2 linked regions of the Homo sapiens genome follow. The protein of the gene in region 1 interacts with the protein of each later gene in a pairwise test. Each region holds a gene or a part of one and is shown on either strand. Other genes may lie near its edges.

Evidence for each region.
Region 2: the proteins of SLBP (region 1) and ERI1 interact in a two-hybrid assay, tested with the Homo sapiens proteins (one study listed by BioGRID).

The regions. Positions count from the first base shown.
Region 1 is NC_000004.12:1,691,927-1,695,320, reverse strand, and holds the end of SLBP (histone RNA hairpin-binding protein), read left to right. Parts: intron 1-480; coding exon 481-547; intron 548-1,607; coding exon 1,608-1,724; 3' UTR 1,725-2,590; downstream 2,591-3,394. UniProt on the Homo sapiens protein: RNA-binding protein involved in the histone pre-mRNA processing.
Region 2 is NC_000008.11:9,026,592-9,033,838, forward strand, and holds the end of ERI1 (3'-5' exoribonuclease 1), read left to right. Parts: intron 1-3,200; coding exon 3,201-3,443; 3' UTR 3,444-5,957; coding exon of another isoform or gene 5,958-6,020; 3' UTR 6,021-6,747; downstream 6,748-7,247. UniProt on the Homo sapiens protein: RNA exonuclease that binds to the 3'-end of histone mRNAs and degrades them, suggesting that it plays an essential role in histone mRNA decay after replication.

The sequences.
Region 1 (3,394 bases):
GTTTCTCCTCTGTGCTGGGAAATTTTTTAGAGACTGGCATGTTTGAAACGATTGTAAGTGGCTTTACCAGTTTGTCCTGACAGATGTCATTTGGGTTTTTTCCCCCAGTGTGACACCATTGTCCCATTCTCTGAGTAGAAACTTGGAAAAATTAGTGATAATGCATAGTATGTTCATCACAGTGCTCATTTCTCCCCCTCAAAAATTGGGCTTATGAGTGTTTCTGTTTCCAAGGATGCTTGTGTGGTGAGCCCAGCAGATCTTTTTGTTGCTTCTCATTGCCATCCGCTTTCTCTTTGCTGGATTGATTGGGCTGGGATTAAGTCTGTCAAATAGTCACTGAAAGCTGACCCCTCAGGGAGCCTCGGGCACACTGTCAGTGTTGTGGCTGTACCATATGGATGGGGTTTGTCTGTAGCGCCCCGTCTCCTGGCTTTGTTAAGTTAGTGCCTGACGCACATGTTGGATCTTGTTTAACAGACACCCTGTAGACCTTGAATCTGCAGAAAGCAGCTCCGAGCCCCAGACCAGCTCTCAGGATGACTTTGTAAGTACTTTGGATAAGTCTTTCAGCTTGGGGGTTGCAGGTGAATTGTTAATAACACATGCTGCCTTATAAACTGAAGTTTGGACTGGGCACGGTGGCTCACGCCTGTAATCCCAGCACCTTGGGAGGCCAAGGCAGGCGGATCACCTGAAGTCAGGAATTCAAGACTAGCCTGGCCAACATGGTGAAACCCTGTTTCTACAAAAATACAAATAATAGCCAGGTATGATGGTGGGTGCCTGTAGTCCGTGCTACTCAGGAGGCTGAGGTGGGAGAATAGCTTGAACCCAGGAGGTGGAGGTTGCAGTGAGCTGAGATGGCGCCATTGCACTCCAGCCTGGGCAACAGAGCAAGACTCTGTCTCAAAAAAAAAAAAAGAAAGAAAACCATGTGCTGCGCGTGGTGGCTCACGCCTGTGATCCCAGCACTTTGGGAGGCTGAGGCAGGCAGATCACCTGAAGTCAGGAGTTCAAGACCAGCCTGCCCAACATAGTGAAACCCAGTCTCTACTAAAAATACAAAAACTAGCTGGGTGTGGTCATGCAGGCATGTAATCCCAGCTACTCAGGAGGCTGAGGCAGGAGAATCACTTGAACCCGGGAGGCAGAGGTGGCAATGAGCCGAAATTGTACCACTGCCCTCCACCCTGTGTGACAGAGTGAGACTCTGTCTCAAGAGAAAAGAAAACCGTTTTTAAATGTATCAGTTTAAATACTGTCTCCTGTCCTGAGACAGCCACTATTTGTGGTTTTGTCTAGGCTTTTACAATTCTTTCTGTGCTTATAAACTATGTACATGGCCAGGCACAGTGACTAGTGACTCCTTCCTGTAATCCCAGCACAATGGGATGTGTGCACATCTAAACGTCAGTGTCTTGTAAATGGTACATGTGGTTTCTCTTTGCAGTGTTATTATTAAAATCTGTCTCAGTTGCACGTGAAGTGTACACCTTGCTGTGCATTACATCACATGATTTACCACATAAGGAGTGGGGTGTAGGAAGGGGCCCCTGTTTTCAGGGTGAGATGAATGTCAACCGAGCCATGCTTCTGTTTTCCAGGATGTGTACTCTGGCACACCCACCAAGGTGAGACACATGGACAGTCAAGTGGAGGATGAGTTTGATTTGGAAGCTTGTTTAACTGAACCCTTGAGAGACTTCTCAGCCATGAGCTAACTGCCCCCTGGCGGCCAGGAAGAGAAACAGCTCCTCCCCGACTAGGTGGAAGGCTGGCCAGGCACCAAGCATGTGTGTGCACTTGTACCTGGTGGTTTCTCTGTTAGCAGTCCATTAGCTCATGCTGAATTATTTTTGCCTTACTTTCTTAAGAAACATTAATTTTATGTATAGTGAGTATATTTTGCATGTTTTAAATTGTAAATGGAGCTAAGTCCAAGAAAGTACTTGAAGCTCTCTTCCAGCGAGCTTAATTGCGTAATCCCTGTTGTCCTCCAGGGTAAGCTGACACGTCTACATAACTGGTTTTCCACAGGCATCTTCAGTTATTGCTTGTCAGGTGGACTGTTTTGGATTTAACCATGTAATCCATGGGACCAATTGAGAGTCAGCTACTTTTATAGGCATCAAAGTATTCTCAGACACCTTTAATATCTTTATGGAAACTTAATTTTTGGCCTTTTATCAATATGTCATAACAGCATTCTGAAGTCAGACATTGTTAAATTGAGCTATTAAACTAATGAGTTTTATGTAAGTTATATGGTCTTAATTTGGTACTTGTAAATAGCACTAGTTAGACTCTTTAGAATACTCCAAGAGTTAGGGCAGCAGAGTGGAGCGATTTAGAAAGAACATTTTAAAACAATCAGTTAATTTACCATGTAAAATTGCTGTAAATGATAATGTGTACAGATTTTCTGTTCAAATATTCAATTGTAAACTTCTTGTTAAGACTGTTACGTTTCTATTGCTTTTGTATGGGATATTGCAAAAATAAAAAGGAAAGAACCCTCTTTCACTGACTGGGGCTGTTGCCAGGTGGGCCAGCTGCCGTGAGAGCTGACATGTTTGGAGGGTCAGAATTGTGTCTGCCTTTCTTGTGTCTGAAGCAAGTGGCACTCAGTGAGTGGCGCTGGGTAAAGGGCCTTCTTTATTTTTTTAATTTTATTTTTTGAGAGTTTCGCTCTTGTTGCCCAGGCTGGAGTGCAATGGTGCAATCATGGCCCACTACAACCTCTGTCTCCCGGGTTCAAGCGATTCTTCTGCCTCAGCCTCCCAAGTAGCTGAAATTACAGGTATGTGCCACCACACGCAGCTAATTTTGTATTTTTAGTAGAGACAGGATTTCTCCATGCTGGTCAGGCTGGTCTCGATCTCCCGACCTCAAGTGATCTGCCTGCCTCGGCCTCCCAACGTGCTGGGATTACAGGTTTGAGCCACTGCGTGTGGCCGGGGGCCTTCTTTAATAGGTGTCACATGTCACATTTGGTCTGATGCTTATTCATCAGCACTGGCATGACAGCCTTCCCTGTCTCTTGGGAGAGACCCTGCAGCAGGATAATCATCAGTCTGAGGGTGCCCTGCTCCCACTGCCTTCACCCTTGGACCGTGGTTGCTGCCTGCAGACGTGACCACTAGTCCACGCCACAGCGACCTGTCCCGGAGATCCCTCCAAGTGATGCTGGGCTGGTCTTAAGCCAGGGATGGGCTCAGGTAACTTTGTTCTAGGAGCTTGAAGAGGGCAGAAGCTCTTGTTTACTTAGCTTGTTTATGGAGACCTCAAGCAGTGTCAGGTGGAGGGTGGTAGACACTGGGGTTGTAGCACATGCCCTGGTGAGGAGACCCAGCTCTTTCAGGGTGGTAGGAGGTGCCTGATAAAAGGTGAC
Region 2 (7,247 bases), on another chromosome or scaffold:
TGTATGTATTTACGGGCTGAGTATACCTAATCCAAAAATTCAATATCTGAAATGCTCCAAAAATCTGAAACTTTCTGGGCACTGACATTGTACTCAAAAGAAATTCTCATTGGAGCATTTCAGGTTTTGGAATTTTGGATTTTCGGATGAGTGATGCAAAAGTGGTGTAATGTAAATGTTGAATATTTCAAAATCCAAAAAATTTCAAATCCAAAGCACTTCTGTCCCAAGCATTTCAGATAAGGAATATTTAACCTGTACCACGTTAAAAAAAAAAAAATCCATTGATTGTTTGATGGACATTTAAGTTACTTCCATGTTTTGGCAATCATGAATAGTGCTGTTATGAACATGGATGTACAGATACCATTCTTCTTCCTGTATAACCAGAATAGGAGTTGGTGGAGCATGTGCTAATTCTATGTTTAATTTTTTTGAGGAATCTCCACATTGTTTCCCACAGTGGCTGTACCATTTTACATTCCTGCCAGCAATGCACAAAGTACTACATTCTCCACATCTCTGTCAATGCTTGTTATTTTCTGGTGTGTGTGTGTATGTGTGTGTGTGTGTGTGTGTGTGTGTGTTTATGGCCATTCTAATGGGTGTGAAGTGGTATCTCATTGTGGTTTTGATTTGTATTTCCCTAATGATTAGTGATGTTGAGCATCTTTTCATGTGATTTTTAGCCATTGGCATATCATGTTTGGAGAAATGTCTATTCAGATTCTTTCCTCATTTACTAAATGAGGTATCATGATGTTTTGAGTTGTAGGAGTTCTTTATTCTGGATATTAATTCATTATCAGATATATACTTGCAAATGTATCTTCTGTTCCATGGGTTGCCATTTCACTCTACTGATAACGTCTTTAGTAATAAGGTTTTTAATGTTGATGAAGTCTACTTTATTTTTTCTTTTGTTGCCTGTGTTTTGGTGACATCCAAGAAATCATTGTCCAATCCATTGTCATAAAGCCTTTTCCATATGTTTTATTCTAAGAATTTTATAATTGAATGTCTTACATTTAGGTCTTTGATCAATTTTAAGTTAATTTTGTTATATGGTGTAAGGTAAGGGTCCAACTTCATTCTTTTGCACGTGGATATTCAGTTTTCCCAACACCGTTTGTTGAAAAGGCTGTTGTTTTTTCCCCATTGATTCAATGTATTTGTGAAAGTTTATTTCTAGACTCTCTTCGGTTTTATTAGTTTGTATGTCTATACTAATACCACTCTCTTTCAATTACTGCACTCCTTCCTTCTGTTAATGCTTGTGTTAACATTATTTTTTAAATGTTGAGCCATCCTTGCATTTCAGGATAAAATCCTACTTGGTCATGGCACATAATTGTTTTAATATGCTGCTGATTTAAATTTGCTTATATTTTGTCAAGGATTATTGCAACATGATAATTGTAGGGGATATTGATCTGTAATTTTCTTTCCTCATGAGGTCTTTGTCAGGCTTTTGTATCAAAGTGATGCTGACCTTAATGGAATGAGTTGGGAAGTATTTCTTCTTCAATTTTTTTGTAGTAGTTTGAGGAGACTTGGTTCTAATTCTTTAAATATTTGCTTGAATTCAGCAGCAAAGCTATCTGGTTCAGCGCTTTTCTTTGTTAGAGGTTTTCAGTTACTGATTCAGTCTCCTTCCTAGGTATAGGTCTATTCCGATTTTCTGTTTCTTTGTAATTCAATTATTGTTAAGTTGTGTATTTCCAGGAATTTGTCTCTTCTACCTAAGTTATCCAGTGTGTTGGGCAAACTATTTTTAGAAGTGCGTTTTCCAAGTGATAATTAGTGGAAGGTACAGGGTATATTGCAGTATTACAGCTTAAGATAATTATAGGTGTTTTACATCATTTGCTTTGTGATTATCCCAGTAACCCTATGAGTAAATATTAGAGCTGTTAGTCCCATTTTACGGATGAAGAAGCTGAGGTCCAAGATGCATAGGCAAAATAGTTGTACAAACTACAGAATGTAAAACTTAACAAATCTTGATAGAAATATGAAGAAAATATAACAATTTTTTTTTTCTTTTTTTGAGATGGAACCTCACTCTGACGCCCAGGCTGGAGTGCAGTGGAGTGATCTTGGCTCACTGTAACCTCTGCCTCCCGGGTTCAAGGGATTCTTCTGCCTCAGCCTCCCGAGTAGCTGGGATTACAGGCGCACGCCACCATAGCCAGATAATTTTTATATTTTTAGTAGAGATGGGGTTTCACCATGTTGGCCAGGCTGGTCTTGAACTCCTGACCTCAGGTGATCCACCTGCCTTGGCCTCCCAAAGTGCTGGGATTACAGGCGTGAGCTACCACACCCAGCCAATAATTCTTAAAAGTGGAGGCACATATTGGAATTTGGGGAGTGTGAGAGTTTTTTTTTTTTTTTTTTTTTTTTAACTTATCAAGGAACAGGTTTTTAAATAACCTGAAAAATACCACACCACATCGTCTTTCATTCTTAATCTTCATTATCTTTAGCCATCCAAAAAGGCTAGTCTTTTTATCTAAGAAATCAGTCAAGTAAAGTAATACACTATAGAAAAATACCATGTAAAATAACTAACTTGGTTTAAAAATAAAAAGGTAGATCTTCAACTTACATGTCCTGAACAATACATTCCCTTTAATAAATTATTTTTAAATTAAAAAACTGCAGAGTTTTTAGATGTCTGAGGATCCTGTCTGTATTTTCAGCTGAAACTCTTAAGATCATATTTTAAAGCTCTGAAAATTTCAGGGTTTTTTTGATGGAGTCTCGCTCTGTTGTTCAGGCTGGAGTGCATTGGCATGATCTCAGCTCGCTGCAGCCTCCACCTCCCAGGTTCAGGCAGTTCTCCTGCCTCAGCCTCCCAGGTAGCTGGCATTACAGATGTGCACCACCACGCCTGGCTAATTTTTTTGTATTTTAAGAAGAGATGGGGTGTCACCATGTTCGCCAGGCTGGTCTCATACTCCTGACCTCAAGTGATCTGCCCACCTTGGCCTCCCAAAGTGCTGAGATTACAGGCGTGAGCCACCTTGCCTGGCCTGAATTTTTTATTTGCCTTATTTGAGTGGGGGTATTGCCCTTTGCCTAGCTTTATTTAGCTGTTAGTGCTAATTTTCAGTTTCTTATTTTTCATCTTAACTGTGGCTTATATTACAGTTTAGAACACCAAAGAATTATTTACTAAGCTGTTTATTTTTCAGGTTCCTAGAAGCCAAACCAAACTGACAATAATGCTTGAAAAATTAGGAATGGATTATGATGGGCGGCCTCACTGTGGTCTTGATGACTCTAAGAATATCGCCCGAATAGCAGTTCGAATGCTTCAGGATGGGTGTGAACTCCGAATCAACGAGAAAATGCATGCAGGACAGCTAATGAGTGTGTCCTCTTCCTTACCAATAGAGGGCACTCCACCACCACAAATGCCACATTTTAGAAAGTAACAACAGTTTTGTGTGTGGATCATTCCAATTGAAGTTGCTATGAAGAGGTAGCAGATGAATCTCATTGAATTAGTCCTGTAGTGCAAACTTTAAGCACCTTAAAACATTTAAAATCTTATTACAGGTGATAGAGATAGATACATGTATGTGAACAGATTTTGTAGGAAGGCATACTGAATTCTTTGTCACCAGCACTTTTGATATGAACAGTATTCGTTACATAGTAACAGTTCCTGCTTACAACTGAATTTTATAATTTAAGGTGTTCAAGATATATTCTTTTTGGTTTTAAAATGCAAAATCTTATTGGCTGTTCTGTTGAATGTCATATCTTACTGGTGTTTAAATATGTAATGTGTTTCTTTATTAACATCACTAGATGAAACCATATCTTAAAATGCAGAAATGATTGGAAGGTAGATCTTATCTAGCCTTTGGATTTCAAGAATATCATAGTCCTTTTGATTTTCAAAGTTTATATGTGAAGTTCACCATGTATGTGGTGAATTTCGTAAGGTACTTGGTATACATATCTGCCTATGTTTCTTTTCAACTCATAATTGGAAGAATTATGATGGATTATAGGGTTTGGTTAAAAATCCAGTTACTGAAGGAATTAATGAAAACGTAGAAGAAAGTACTAAAAGGAATATCATAAGGGCTGTAGCTCAAACTTCATAATACATAAATCACTGGGGTCTTTTTGGATTTGGTTGTTTGATTCGCCTTCCTTTTTTGACATATGTATGCCTTAATTCTTAAATCTGAGGGACCATGCTTTGAAATAGACTGAAAATTAAGGGTCACCACCTAATTTTACTTTGTATTCAGTATCGTAAGTGAGGTTAATAAAGTCAATACTTTCTACCATATATTACGTTTTTGTTATTAAAAAACTTCATTGGCCACTAGTGAAGTTAGTCAATAAAAGACTTGTTTTTCTGATTTTACATAGTAAATGGCTGCTAAGTATTGAGTAATTCTTAACTAATTCTAAAAACTAAAATGTGCATTTCGACTTGATAAGGTAAAACTCTTATCTAGAGGCTAAACCCATGTATTTTCAGAATTGAATTTTTCTCCTTGTAGCTTTCAGGGAACAATTTCATTGACATTGCTTGCTTCCTGCCTTTTACCTTTTAATAAAAATTGTGATGCTACTTTATTCTAAAGATTTATATTTTATAACCAGATGAATTTCCTCAAAGGTTTCCAAACCTATATCATATAGGGTGAAAAGCAGGAAAGTAGACATTTTTCTTGGCGTGGGAATTCTCTACATAGGGCAGTAGATTTCTTAAGCCAATGAATTTCTGCTTTTCAGCAGTAGTCATATAATCAGTATCATAAAGAATAATGTGTAAATAACAGAAGGCATATGAGAGTGTGGTGTTCCTAGATGAACTGTTACAGATTATAGTAAAATAAGGAAATCTAAGTGCTTTAAGTTTATACAGTTAACTCTTAGGATAAGAGGGATGTATGCTGAGATGTTTGTGCATCCCAGATAGCACTGTACAATAACCTGTAAAGTATTACTGAATACTGAATAGCTGAAACTGCAATTGGAAAATCTGATGATGACGAGGAAATATTACGTTTCCAGTTTTTTTAGCTCTATCTGCTAATTTCTTTGCCTGTTTTCACTTTCGCCAAGTACCAACAAGCTCATGTTGTATTTCTTTTTAAGAACTTCAACATTATAAGCTCTCAGTACCCTATTTTGTTGTTGTTGTTGTTTGAGACAGAGTTTTTGCTCGTCTGCCAGGATGGAGTGCAGTGGTGCGATCTTGGCTCACTGCAACCTCCGCCTCCTGGGCTCAGGTGATCCTCTTGCCTCAGCCTCCTGAGTAGCTCAGATTACAGGCGCGTGCCACCACACCCGCCTAATTTTTGTATTTTTGGTAGAGGCGGGGTTTCACCATGTTGGTCAGGCTGGTCTTGAACTCCTGACCTCAAGTGATTTGCCCACCTTGACCTCCTACAGACGTGAGCCACTGCGCTCAGCCATAGATTTTACTGTCTTAACCCATTTTAATTCCTCTGTTGAGTCTCTGTCCTCCCCTCCAATTTGATTTGGGATTTTGCTGATGAGATGATACTAAACATTGAGAGTACTGCTTTTTACTCTGACTTTTATTGTGTTGTCTTTGAAAGACAAATAGTACAACTTTTTACAAGGAAACACGTAAGAGATGGATGTCCATGAAAACAATATTAGTATATTCTATTATTGTTTCTTATTAATAGTTACTTAGTATTTACAAACAATTTATTATTAGCTGTGTTAACTTTTATTCTATGCTTCATATGCTCTGACATTGACATAGTGGATTTCTGCTGATTTTTTTCAAATCCGCAATCTTTATAACCAACTGAAGTATATAATAGAGCATTACATTTTATCTTTATTTGTGTTCTGTTGGATCAAGTATTTAACATTTGCTCTGAAAAAAATGTTTTTGTGATGTGTCTTTGTTGCCTTGAGATAGATCCATTTATCCTGCCTCCTAGGGAGAAGTTTCTGCCTGGATTGAAACAAAAAAACACAGGCGTCACAAGCATGTTACCTATTAAGAGAGAGAGGGTATCTCTGAAGACTAATTAAAATGGTAATTTTTAAAAAGATGTGACCAGTTGACTTTTAGTATATCATCCCAAGTATTATCCCCAAAATGATAATGCAAAACAGAATAATTTGGAGACCAGGAGAAAAACTGGTATGATTACTGGGGAGGGGAAGAAGCACAGGTGGTCAAGATAATAATGCATGTTTGGCCTCAGCTGTAGTTGCCAAAGAAACTACCTGCCTCACAGATGAGCACGCACGGGTGCATTGTCAAAGTCTGAGAAGGATGTATTGTACTTTGAAGGAAGACTTTCCATTTCTAAGCTACCATGGAGAAGTATATGCTCCTCGAGACCAGAGACTGTGACTTCTGCATCTTTGATTCCAGCGACATATGATAAAATGTTTTGCACATAGTTGAATCCAGCGTTGATACATGAAGGACAGCATTACATCTTTTTTCTATTATACTTAGAAATTTCCTCTTTGTTCTGCACCACCAACCTGTATATCAAGCCTCCTTGCCCCACAAAGCTTCCAAAGCCCGTAAATTTGTTAATCTAGAGCAGGGGTCAGCAAACTACCACCCATGGGCCAAATCTGGCTGCTGCCTATTTTTGTATGGCCTACAAACTATGGTTTTTATATTCCCTTTTGTTAATGGCTCAAAATAATATTTTGTATAATACGAAAATTACGAAATTTTAGTTTCTCTAAATAAAGTTTTGGAAAGAACTACCATTCTCATTTGTTTTCATGTCATCTCTGACCACTTTTGTGCTACAATGGCAGAGTTGAATAGCTGCATCAGTGGCACCATCTGGCCAGCAAGGCCAAAAAATACTACTGTCTGGCCCTTTATGGAGAAAGTTTGCCTACCCTTACCTCCCTTATGTAATGCAATATATAAGTTCCATCAACAAACAAGAAATGCGACTGTGATGAGAGCGTAGAGCTGAATGTTAAGGTACAATGATACTTGCATCAGACATTTATGGAGCACTGTTAAGTACTTTACTCCATTGTTTAGTAAGAATCTGGTGATGGAGAGAGGCATTCTCTGCAGTTTACAGATGGGAAAGTTGAGGTCCAGAGCGGTTAAGTTGCCAAAGTTTAAGTAGTGGGAGCTGTAGATTCTGGCAGTATGGCTTGAGCCTTGCTCTTTATCTCTGTGCTATGCTGCCTCCCGTTGTAGACTTTGGCTTAACCTGATATTCCAGGAACAGGTAGGTTGT